Linked DNA regions of Homo sapiens: all the other regions are reported to be linked to region 3. Evidence: microRNA targets listed by miRTarBase, many of them from high-throughput screens and not tested one by one. Region 3 holds a microRNA gene; each other region holds the end of a gene's coding sequence.
What was found. Region 3 holds the annotated microRNA hsa-miR-1470 (GCCCUCCGCCCGUGCACCCCG, at 1,478-1,498, opposite strand). A microRNA usually pairs through its seed, bases 2 to 8, with sites in the 3' UTR of a target mRNA and lowers its output. Matches are read on the target gene's strand: a 7mer-m8 pairs with bases 2 to 8, a 7mer-A1 pairs with bases 2 to 7 and ends in A, and an 8mer does both.

Region 1: miRTarBase lists NEXMIF as a target of hsa-miR-1470. The part of its 3' UTR that is shown has no 7-base or 8-base seed match.
Region 2: the mRNA of KIAA1958 is a reported target of hsa-miR-1470. The part of its 3' UTR that is shown has no 7-base or 8-base seed match.
Region 4: miRTarBase lists BTBD3 as a target of hsa-miR-1470. Seed matches in the 3' UTR shown: 7mer-A1 at 1,452-1,458.

Annotation. Positions count from the first base shown.
Region 1 is chrX:74,736,471-74,739,623 of GRCh38, forward strand. It overlaps NEXMIF (neurite extension and migration factor), which reads right to left. Exons shown (of 4, transcript NM_001008537.3): 4 at 1-3,028. The coding sequence ends at 2,935. Among named protein-coding and RNA genes, the nearest start is that of RLIM, 120 kb to the left of the region's middle.
Region 2 is chr9:112,659,578-112,662,751 of GRCh38, forward strand. It overlaps KIAA1958, which reads left to right. Exons shown (of 4, transcript NM_133465.4): 4 at 1-3,174. The coding sequence ends at 492. Among named protein-coding and RNA genes, the nearest start is that of INIP, 57 kb to the right of the region's middle. RefSeq lists a silencer at 918-1,118.
Region 3 is chr19:15,447,883-15,451,045 of GRCh38, reverse strand. It overlaps MIR1470 (microRNA 1470), which reads right to left and starts at 1,498; the gene lies at 1,438-1,498. WIZ (WIZ zinc finger) reads left to right here and starts at 1,090. Exons shown (of 13, transcript NM_001371589.1): 1 at 1,090-1,248; 2 at 2,679-2,943. The coding sequence starts at 2,739. RefSeq lists silencers at 1,066-1,195, 1,246-1,365, 1,716-1,825.
Region 4 is chr20:11,923,501-11,926,500 of GRCh38, forward strand. BTBD3 (BTB domain containing 3) reads left to right here. Exons shown (of 4, transcript NM_014962.4): 4 at 1-3,000. The coding sequence ends at 166. Among named protein-coding and RNA genes, the nearest start is that of BTBD3-AS1, 6.4 kb to the left of the region's middle. RefSeq lists enhancers at 1,172-1,672, 1,673-2,173.

The DNA of each region.
Region 1 (3,153 bases), not on the chromosome of region 3:
AAGGGAGCGGTAATCAGGAATTTCAGACCAAGGATAATATATATTTCTGACTTGAGATACCAGTGATAGGGCAAAACACTATTTTTATACTCTACTAAGGCAGCTGGTTATGACAGGAAGAAAAAGAACTGTGAGAGCAGAGACAGGACCAACAAAATGCTAAATGATGAACATCTCAGAACACAATGTACTGAGAGGAATATTAAATGCAATTAAGAGAATAAACATCTTCTGCCTCGGCCTATTGCTCATTTCTCAAACTCTGTTTCTTTTTATGTTTCAGTACAAAGTGACTGGTTATGCGTCACTAATTTATATATTAAAAACATATAATACACTGCAGGCCAATTAAAAAGGTACTTTAAAATAACAATTCTCTTTGGAGAAAGGGATGAACTATGCCCTAGAATTGGCCCTTAATGGGCTCCATAGGAGCAACTGAAAGAATATCCATTCCAAAGGACTTATGATAGCAAGTTCTCACAAGGAAATTGTTTCCAACAGTTTCAGGCTGTCCTACCCCACTCACACCCCATTCTCCAAAGCTGAACTGATACCGAAAAAAAACTGGGACAACTGCTCCCATATTTACTTTTATAAAAACACATTGTATTAATGGAACATTTTCTTTATTTTTTCATTAATTGCCACCTTTTCATTACATAGAAAGCACTCCACTCCTCTAAGCCAGCAGGTGACTCTGAGGTCTGGAGTCTTGGGGATCACAATACAGGCAGAGTTGGTGATTCCAAGCCAAAATTCAGCTGCAAAACAGAAAAATCAAAAACAAAAACAAAAACAAAACAAAGACCAGTTTCTAGGGACTGGCCATAGCATTTAGTACAGCTAGCTATCAGAATAGAGAAATAGAAGAAGGTTTTCCAGTTTGGTTATTTTCCCTTTTGAATGGTAGCTATGGGGCAGGAGACATGTTTCATCTGGTGCCTTTCCACTAAGTAATTTTCCAGGGCTCACTGCAAACAGAGCATTAAAGCCTAGGAATGGGCCTGTACCAGCCTCACAGAATGCTCCTCACCCACTCATCCCCACAGACACAAGAGACTGACGCTGGGAACACACATGATCAAGAACACAGGCTTGTTCATTTTACGACCCAGCTGTAAGGAATAGAGCAGGCTGGTGAAAGGAATCATGGACCGGGAAGTGTATATACTTATATACATGACAGGCTTCCTTCCATTTCTCTCTGACTACTTTCAAATGTTGCTTCTCTGTTTGTGAATACATTTAGGTGGCATTGACTAGGTAGGTTCATATTTTGCTTAAAATTTTCCTTTTGAAACATCTTCCCTTTTTTTGTTAAATCCCCTTTTTCCCTTCCCACTTATTCTCCACCCTCCCACCCCAGCCTATATATTCACAAGTTAATAGGTTAGTAACAATATTAATAAGAATAGTAACAACGACAACAACTAACAATATTAATAATATTAATCCCCTATATCTGTATAGCACTTTATGATCTACAAAGCGCTCTCACATCCATTATCTCATCTGTGCCATAATGCATCAGTCATCAGATGCACAGGCCTTCAATTGTGCAAAGAAAAGAGATCAAATGTTAGAAGTCAAGTGGTGAATAAAAGGGAAGAAAAAGTAGTAGTGAGGAATGTTGGGGCTGTGAAATTTTTTTTAAAAAGTAGGGGGAGTACTGAATAAAAAATGTGATTTAAAAATTTGTACTTAAAATTGAGATTTAAGTTTAGTGTGTGGCATCAAATATTGGTTATCCTCAGACTAAGGGTATATGGCCCAAATCAGTTGTTGCCACAAATTGTTCATCTTATCTGATAGTAAATGTACTTTACTCATAAGAAGAAAAATTTGGTTGAACTGGGATGCCTTAACATTTTCTTTAAATGACATTGGCATTGCAAGATTAAACACTGAAAGAACACTAAAGCCATGATATGAGTGCACTTTTGACAAAACTGGAATAAAACATTTAGGAAACTATTTAAATAAAAGCATTCTATATACTTCATTTATCATTAGTGTTGATTTTATAGCTATTTTTATAATTTATCCCAGACTATTATAAAATATATAAAACTGAGATATAAAGTATCAGCAATATAACTTTGCACTTTAAATAATTTTCAGCTACAGATTTTGCTTTTAGAAAACAAACTTTGAAAGCAGCTGTTTTGTTTCCTTGTAAAACGTTCTGTAAATGCATATACTTGGGTCCCTGATGGACTTAGCTGTTGTGGCCTTCAGACTTTTCCAAAATTTTAACCCTTACACAATGGAACAAGAAAATCTTTATTTTGCCTTGTTTAGCTGTTCATGTTTCCACACAGGACAGTAGAGTCTAAAACTTTAAAAGAACGTGTGTGTGTGTATATATATATATACATATATATACACACACACACACACACACAAACATATACATATATATGTTTGGGTGTGTATATATCCATTTAAAAATAATTAATGAGCTTTAAACTGTGGGTGAATCTGTGAGATGAGGTAAGAAAATTTGGCACATTTCAAACAGTATCCTTTAATTTTGGTAAATTGTGTAACACAACATATTTTTCCACCATGATCTACAGGTGCTATCCACATAAGTGGGGGTGGTTAATAGCAAGAATCACTGGAATGTTTCTAGTAAATTAACAGGGACAACTTCCCCAAATACAACCAAATGTTGATATAGAAGTAAAAATATATACAGTACAGTCACTTGTTTGTAGTTTGGCACAATGTTTTCAATTTTTTCCTTGTGGGTAAATAGTGCATAAACTACTTGTGCAACTGTATGACTTTTTAAGTCTTTTACATAGAACATGAGATTAAAGTTTGCTCCAAAGACGTATTCCCACAATTTAAAATTCTTTTCTTTAAGCACTTACATGTCAACATACATACCACAAGGCATATTTTGAAAGAAATAAAACACAAACATCAAATGTCTTTCTGGAAAATGCGAGTCTCTTCTTCAAACACAGGTAAAACCCAAAAGGTTGTTTCTGCTTTTAGGAGATTGTAGTCGGAATCCCTGCAGAAAAATCAAACAATTTATGCCATCTGAGTTAGTTTTAGTGTATGTCCCACAAAGGGATCATACAAGCTAAATTTGTTAACATCATACTAGATGCCGTATGATGTAGAAAAAGATACAAA
Region 2 (3,174 bases), not on the chromosome of region 3:
ACTCTCCTGTCCACTGTGGTCAAGTACAACAGCCAGTACCTGAACATGCGGACGCTGCAGGAGCATGCGGATCTGATGTATGGTGACATCGAGCTGCTCAAAGACCCCCAAAACCAGCCCTACTTTGCCCGGACGGACAGCGTCAAGCGGGAGAGTCGGAGCGGCTCCACCAGAGTGTGTCACGGGAAGATCTACCATGAGCATTCCCGGGGACACAAACAGTGCCCTTACTGCCTCCTCTACAAGTACATGTACATCCACCGGCCGCCCACCCAAATGGAGGCCAAGTCCCCCTTCTACCTGACTGCCAGGAAGGAGGCCACAGACATGGGCAGCGTGTGGTATGAGGAGCAGAGGATGGGGCTGCGCTCTCTTCGGGGAATTGTCCCAAACTTAGCCAAGAAGGTCAAGCTGGAAAACTGTGAGAACTTCACCTTTGTCTCGTTCACTCAGGTCTCCCGGAGGCTTGGCTCCCACAGCTGCTGCCAGTGAGCCCCCACTGGGGCCCGGCCACTGCCCTGTCACCTGCTCGGGCCAGCCAGGGTTGGAGCAGCTGGAGCTCCTTGGAGGCAGGGGCTGACCAGGTGTGACCTCCCGGTCTGGCGGCTCTCCCCTGGTGTGGCCTGCCCTCCCTTTGACTTGGGGTTTGCTTTTTAAAATGAAACTAGATGAGTCTAAATCATTCGGATGGTTTATCCAAATGTGCGTCAACTTCGTTAGCTTTTAGAATCTAACACAATGTATAATTGTTACATACAAGAGTGAGGAAATTCATTTTCTCTAGTGCCTTTCTAGCACAGGTTTTCTCAAAACAAACAAACAAAAAAGGAAACTGTTAAGTAGTCGTTTAAAAAAAAAATCCCAGTAGCGCAGTAGCTTTAGAACGTTAGGAAGACTGTACACTTTGTTGAATTACACTCACAATTAGAAACTAGAGAGAGGCAGACACGTTCCCTATTTCCAGGAGACAGATTGCGCTTGATGCGCCTTTTTTTTCTGTTGGTGGATAAGGTGGTTCTGGAGGGCAGGCAGCCTTGTGTCGGGGAGTATCCTCAAGCGACACTTGGTCATCTGACAAGGACTTGGGCTGCTCCCACGGCTCCCAGCAGCGGTAGGAACCCCATCTCGGCTGTCAATGGAGAGAATTTTATGATAAAAGATTCACGCACCAGAAGGGTGTCTGTGAGAACAAGGCTTCTAGTGAACTAGACAGTTTGTACCATGAGGGAATTTCTAGTAGTGAAGGAAAATGGCTTGGAAAAGCCAATCTGTGATCAAAATGTGAAAACCTCCTGAAGCAGAAGTGCCTATGTTTTATTTCTCAGCACCATGTGAGAGCTCCTTTGATTGGAACATTTTTTGAGGTTTCTGTCTGTTCTTCGTGTCATCCCATTATTCGGTCAGCATATACCACTGGATCTATAAAACAACTAAAGGTAATTTTTAGTCTTAGCCAAGAAAAGCTAACCAAACAAGCTGCAAAAAACACAGATCCCCAAACTTTCTTTATTAAAGAGATTTGGAATATTTTTGTCAATGTATGACTTTTCAGCCACAATTACATGTCATCATTTTAGGATGGCACCAATACTTGGGACACGATGATTTAGGCACCCCACCAGGTAAGCAAACTCAGCATTAAGGATGTAGTTATAAAATTAGCGCATAATGGTAGGTAATGCAGTTTGAAACCATTTCACTCAGGTAAAATGCAACCTGACCACATTATTTAAAAATCAGCAGAATTTTCTAATAACTACTCTGAGTGCAACAACAAGTGAAAAAGGAGCTCAAAGAGTGCTCATTAAGAGTAACAATAATTTCTAGGGACCTTGACTTTGCATTTGAGGAAAATCTTGTGTAACTTTATTCCATTATGCTCCTAATATGCTTTCTAATCCCAAATTAAAACTCTAATACAAATTCATTTTGTAGAAGTCTTAAAATCAGTCCTCTTTCTTTTTGAAAACATTATTTTAGTATTTATTTTAATTAATTGGTTTCTTAAAAAATCATACACTAGTCATTGACATATGTAATACTTCCTTTACCAGAGAAGACTCAACCAATGCTGCCTTAAGATTTAATGTTATTCCCTTTTTAGTCACTGTGCATTTATAAGTTTGTTTACTAGTTGACCTTTCCTGAATAGAGATTAGTTTCGGCATTTCTCCATCTGTATATAAATAACAGGTAATATTTAATCATCAGTGTATGACTTGATATCACATAACGTTCTGGTGTGGTTTCCTGTAGTGATCTTAGGGTTTTGATTTAAAAGAAATACACAAAACATTAGGTACAATTTCCTTTAGTTTGCTAAACACCCAAAGGATATTTTGTTTTGTTGGTTCTGCACTTAAACTGAAATACAACCTATGTGAACTATTGGGCAAAGCCTGCAGCCTAATTAATTAAAACCTCCATTTTTATTTGAATAGATTCAAGTAGAAATTGCCGTTAGGAATCACTGGGATCTTTTCGGATTTTGACCTTTTCAAAGGTAGCAATAACTACTCCAGAGGTTGTAATCTTTCTGTTGGTAGTGGCTTTTCATCAGCTAAATAATCATCTCTGCCTCAAATGTGTTGCCTGTCACCTAGTTGATGTTCCATAAAATCCCTGGGTTCTGAAGTGAATTATTATAATTAATAATCAGGAGGGCGAATCTTCAGTGGCATCTGATGGAATGAAAGAACTGTGTCTGAGCAGCCTAAAAGCTGTTTGTGACATGCCACCTTGGGAAACAAGAGTGAGGAAGAAAACACAGTCATCAAGTGCCAGCGTGTGCCACCCATTGTACTAGGTACTTTATTATGCATTTATGTATATGTGTGTGTGTCTGTGTATACACACAAACACATATACATAAGTGTTTACACACACACACGCACAATATGTGGTTAAGCCTGGTAAGCCTGCTAAAATGGCAAAGCGGCCTGGCGCGTGGCTCACGCCTATAATCCCAGCACTTTGGGAGGCCAAGGTGGGCAGATCACTTGAGGTCAGGAGTTCAAGATCAGGACCAACATGGTGAAACCCCATCTCTACTAAAAATACAAAAATTAGCCGGGCGTGGTGGCAGGTGCCTGTAATCCCAGCTACTTGAGAGTCTGAAGCAGGAGAATTGCTTGAACCTGGGAGGCGGAGGTTGCAGTGAGCCGAGACCATGCC
Region 3 (3,163 bases):
GTCTGCCTAGAAAAGGCCTGGTTCATAGTAAGAAAAAATTTTTTTCAATGTTGTGATTATATATATCATATGTACATATGTTGAGGTCTCCTGAGACGCCTGAGAACTGGGCAGTGGAGAAACAATAATGAACTAGACAGGACTCCTGGCCTCATGGAACTTACATGTTAGTGGAGGGACCAAATCAACAGACAAACTGGTGGATGGATGTTTGGGGGGCTGGGCGGAAAGATGTGTGTGGGGATGGTTGGGTACTTGCTTGGTTGTATGGATAAATGAGTATTTACTTGGGTGCTGGATGAATGGGTGGGTAGATGGGAAGTGAATGGGTGGGTTGAGTGGGTGTTTGGGTGAATTAATAGGTGGTTGGAGGGGTGGGTGGATAGGTGATTAGTTCATTGGATAGGTAGATGAGTGATTGATAGATTGAGGAAGTGGATGAGATAGCTAGGTGGTTAGATATCTGGATACATGGTGGATAAGACAAGACAACAGGCCATGATGTGTGTCTGATGGGGTAGTCCTGGAAGCTGTGATCCTGGGAACTGGGTGGAGAAGGTGACTTAGGACTGAAGACCTAGGGCAACTCTAGGGACATGGAGGTGCTGAAGTCCAGTGTGGATGATTGGGAAGGAGGGAGTGAGCTTGTGGTTGGAAGGTAGCTGATGGGGGGCAGGGGACAAAAGGCTAAAAATTGGCTGGGTGGAGTCTTCAATGACCTATCAATGACCCATCAATGACCCATGGGGGAACTTCTCTGCACCCTCCCCACTCTTTTAGTGCTTTTAGCGAGCCTACCATTGGAAGTACCAGTGGGACGATAAGGAGCCATTGGGGTGTGGGACGACAAGGGTGTTGTCATGGTAACGGGGCCTCTCCCTGGACTCAGGCCGTGCGGGCCCTTTAAGGGTGACCCGCTTGGCCACTCCCAACATGGCGGCGCGCCCGCTGGCCGCCCCCCCCGGGGCGGCGAGGGGGGGGGGGGTGGGGTGGGGGGGGCGCCCCGGACCTCCCCATCATGGCGGCGCGGCGGGGCTGTCGCGCTGAGGTCACGGCGGCGCGCCGGGGGGGCGGGGCGGCGGGGGGAGCGATTTAAAGGGACAATGTCCCCCGAGCGGTGGAGGCGGCGGCGGCTGCGGAGGCCGCGGCACCGGCACCGGGAGCGGCAGCGGCGGTAGCGGCAGCGACGGCCGCACCAAGGAGGGGAGCTCCGAGCCCCGGCACCTGGCCGGCGGCGCCGCCTCCCCGGTGAGGCCCGGCCCGGCCTGGGGAGCCCGCGGGTGGGGCGGAGCCGTAGCGGGGCGGGGGAGGCCCCGGGCCGGGCCGGGCCAGGCGGGACCCCCCGGGGCGGGGGCGGGGGCGGGGCCTTCAGGGGCGGGGCCTGGCCGGGGGCGGGGCCGTGCAGGTGGGGGGAGGGGCGGGGGTCTTGGGGCAGGTGTCCCCCCTACCTCGGCGCGTCCCGCGGGGTCTCCTGCCCCGGGGTGCACGGGCGGAGGGCTCATCCCCCGGACCCTGGACCCCCGAGGAGTGGGCCCGCGCGGCGCAGCCCCCACCTCTGCGACCCCTGGGGGGCGTCCGGGTAGGAGCCCCCTCCCCACGCTGCCAAAGTGCTCCGAAGTTGCGGTCCCGCCCGTTCCCCGCGGGCAGTGCCCACCCAGTGGACAACCGCAGGTGCTTCCTCCGGGCCTGGGTAGGGACCCCCACCAAGACTGCCAGCCCACGGAGGAGCCCCCTGGGAATCCCCAGGCCCCCGAGGGCAGCGCCTGCAACCAGGCCTGGCGCCCCGGCCCCGCCCCGGTTGCCTGGGCCCGGCCTCCCCACCATCTCCCTGGGGAGGGCGCCTCATTCCTGCCCTTCACTTTCCGCCGTTACCTTGAAGGTATTTATAGGTAGAGAGGACAACCCCCGCTCCCCAGGGTCCTCATTTCTGGACCAGGAGCCCTATCGTTTTCTTTCGCCCGAGGACTAGAGCAATCTTGGTTGGGGGGTGGGGGGAATGGAGGAGCCCAAGCTGGGTATGCATGAGGGATAATGTTGGGGAGAAGCGAAAGGGTTAATGCTGGGGTCACTTGAGGCTGTGTGTGTGGAGGGGGGTGAAGGGGTTAATGCTGGAGAACCCTAAGGTCCTGTGTGGGGGAAGGGTTGGAGTGTGGGAAAAGTGCAGGGATCATTGGTATGGGACAACCCAATGGAGAAAAGTAAAGGGGTAATGATGGGAGACTCCTGACGGTGTATAGGATCAGAGTGTACAAGTGGCTGGGATTCTTGCCGAGGAAACGAAGGCATGGCAGTAGGATGTGCGTGTGCATGGATGTGAGGGCAGGACTGGGGAAAGTGCAGCTGTGTGTGAATGAAGGGAGGCGTCTGGAGAAATGGTAAGATTGATGGAAGAAGACCAGGTGGCTGAGTGTGCATGTGTCAATATGGGTAAACTGAGGCAGTGCAGGATCTGTATAAAGGGGAGGAGTTATTGATGGGGAGACGGAGGCATGCTGAGGGTAGGGGCCATTGGGATAGAAGGTGTGTGGAAAAGGTCTGAACACCATTAGCTCCCCTGGGCTGGGAGGTAAACTGAGGCAGTGAGCTGCAAAGTTGAGGACTGAGGTTTTGAGGGATGGGAAACTGAGGCAGATTCCCTTTCCTCCATCCCCTAAGCACTTCCTTCTCTCTATCCCCAGGCCCACAATGCCCCGCTGAGCCGGTGCAGCAGCTGAGTGGATCCAAGCAGAGAAAATCCGATGGAGGGGTCTCTGGCAGGCAGCCTGGCTGCACCAGATCGTCCCCAAGGCCCAGAGAGACTGCCTGGCCCGGCGCCAAGGGAGAACATCGAGGGTGGGGCCGAAGCTGCTGAGGGGGAAGGTGGCATCTTCCGGTCCACCCGTTACCTGCCTGTCACCAAGGAGGGCCCCCGAGACATTCTGGATGGCAGAGGTGGCATCTCTGGTAAGAGAATGGGCCGTGTGGCCCCCAGGGAGCATCCAGCCCATTCCCCAAGGCTCAGAGAGAGTCAAGTCACCCAGCGCAGCAGCGGCTGAGCTGGGATGCTGATTCCGCTTGGGTCCAGAGCCTTTTCTTTGTACTCTGTTTAGTTTCTTATTTGACAGTTGTGAAAACAGGTGTCCTGGGAGCCAGTGACCAGACCAAGGCTCCCCACTGGGTGGTA
Region 4 (3,000 bases), not on the chromosome of region 3:
AGCCAGTGTGATACTGGATGGCAATGAACTCAGCTACTTTGGACAAGAAGGCATGACAGAAGTTCAGTGTGGCAAAGTGACTGTCCAGTTTCAGTGCTCCTCAGATAGCACCAATGGCACTGGGGTACAGGGAGGGCAGATCCCTGAACTTATATTCTATGCTTGAAAACTCACTTCCTGAAGCAGCTTGAGCTCCAAAGTGCACATCTGGTTCCAACTTGCCTGATGCTTAGCTCATCTGCAAATATGTGATCAGTGCCGGTAATTTGTAATGAATGAAGCGGTAGGCAGGTTCTAATTTCTTTTAACCTTTTAATTATGTACAGGCAAAAATGCAGCATTCCGCTTTTAACTATCTGCTTAAAAGAGCTAACGTTCTTATTAAGGCTTTGTGGTTTTTAGAGTTGCATCTATGAACCTGGGGAGATTATGTGCTTTCCCAAGCGTTCCACCACCCTCTCAGTTTTGTCCCTCTGAAGATAATTTTGGATCACCTTGAATTTCCTTTTGGACGTTATTTGATGAACAGAAATAAAGTGATAACAAGAGTTATTTTTAAACAGAACTCCTCTTACCCCCCAAAACAGATAAACCTCAGTGTACAATTTTGAAAGAAGTTTTGCCTTGTAATGAGTAATAATTTAGAAAGTAGACAGTGGTTGTGTTTGGCTCTCGTTTTATTCCTTTTACATTTGTTGCTTCTGGGATTTAAAAAATTACTAAATTCATAAGATAGTTAGGTATTAAACACTTCAGAATATCAATGTAAAATTGGAAAATAAGGAACTGGGGGCATTTGTTTAGGCCATGACTTCTACAAGCAGATTTCTTTTCTTTTAGTTTAGAAGACAAAAAATTTCAATACAGATACTTCTTTTAGAAGTAAATTTTTAGATTTTATTGTCAGTAGAAAAAAGTTAAACTCCTACTAATTTAAACTAAGACAGTTTAAAAAGGAAGCCTGAAAAAGACTCATACTACAAATAATTTAATTGATGGCATATAAGAATATGCAGTTTGAAAAAGCCAAACTCTTCTCTCCACTTAGCTTTTGATCCCCACTGTTTGCTTATTTGTATAAGTCATACTGTGTAGAATTTCTATTTTCTTTTTCCCCATTAAAAGAGGACCAAACAATTCTTTATACAAATGGAGTAGCAACTAGTTTTGTAGCACTACATTTAATGTAATGAGATACCTTTGTTCATTTTTTTAAATTTGAAATATACTTTACCTGATCCACTTTGATTGTATACTATATTCTTTGTTAATTTTAATTTTGTCCTGTTCCTAGACTGCTAGAATCTGGCCCCTGGCCATCTTAAAGTGCCAACATATGCCTGCAGGGTTTATAAAAAATGGCCTGGAGTGACACATTTTATTATACCTAATATTCACTGCATCAGTATCACATCTAGCTCCCTTACTTGTCCACAGATAATGTAAACAAAGGAGGGAAAAACTTATTAAATTCTCCTTCGCTGCTGGCTTGTGCTGGTTTAGTGCCTGTGTCCCTGGCAGTGTCCAGTGTGTTCACTTCCAGTTGAAGTATCCATGTGTTTCTGGGCAGCTTTTCTGCTCAGTGTGATCCTGAGATGGCTTCCCCGCCGCCACCCAGAGTGTGGTCCTTGGCCGCCTCCTGCTCCTGCTCTGCAAGCCTGAAACTGGCTTGTCTGGAGCCAGGAGTTAGTCCTGGGGTGTGTGTGTGCCTGCGCACCCATGCGCATGCAAGTGTGTTTGCCAGCTCAGGAGCTGTCTCCTCTCTACCTGGCTAGTAAGAGGTGGGACAGTAATGGTCCTCCTGCTGGCCCCAGCAAGGCCCATGAGTGACTGCCCTGACGTATTCACTGTGCCTCTGGGCCACTTCTTCCCCTGTAGATGTGGGCTTGTTGCCTTCAGCCGGCTTCCCTGAGGGAGGAGAACACTGGATTATTGGAAATGTTTTAATCACTCTTGCCATTACCTACATCTATTAGCATAGATGATGAAAAGCTGTTACTGGTGATTATAGATGAGTATTTCCAGGACAACGTTCTAAAAGTACAATTATTTCTTATTGGGGAGATTACAGGTAGTTTGGCAAAGCATTGAAGTACAAAGGTACATTTTCAATTAAAAAGCACACTTCTACAAAAGATTTGGTTTTTAAATTATGGTTACACATTTCAGTAACTCATAGCTGCTGTGCAAATTGGTAGACCTTATAAGAAGGCACTTGTTTGTAAGCCAGAGAAGAAACTTTAATTGCATCCTATCAGATTGTTGAGGTGGGTGTGATAGTCTTCAGGTGCAGTGCGTTCATTCACTAACGCTCACTGTCAGTGCCCATGTTTGCTAGCTGCCTCCATGTGACTAGTGAGCTGCTGGTGAAAGTCGTGTGAAATCCTGTACACTGTGTATAGAATAATGTAATTTTATGTTAATTGTTATTACTTTAAAACATATCTACCATCTGATTGGCTGGTACCGAGAGCTGTGGGTAAAATTTGAAAATTGTATTTAGAATAAGAAATTTTACATTTTAAACCCTATTGTCCTTTATGCATTTTCAATGAAATGGAATGAAGGCTAATATGCTTGCTTTATTTACTTTTGTAATCTTGGATTTTGTAGCTTTTAAAACTAGAAACCATTGTTCTAACAAAGCAGGCAACTTTATTCTATAAACACAACTTTATTAAGCAGAATACACTGTAGATGCTTTTCCCCAACGTATCTGGCTGGCAGTCTTTGTCGTTGTTCATTCTGGGGATAAAGGGGAACTAGGCTAGCAGTTCTAATGTGACATTCTTTAAGCATATCTTAAAATAGTATTTAAGTAAATGGTCTAATTTCTACATAATTATTGCACTGAACTTTTTTGTTTATTAAGGTGTTTAAATAAGCTCAGCTAATTCAAGACACTGTAGCCACTTGTGCATCAGTGTGCTTGAATTTAGTAGCTTACAGCATTATTTATGAAGGAAAAAATACATAAATATGAAGTACCTCATGTTGAAT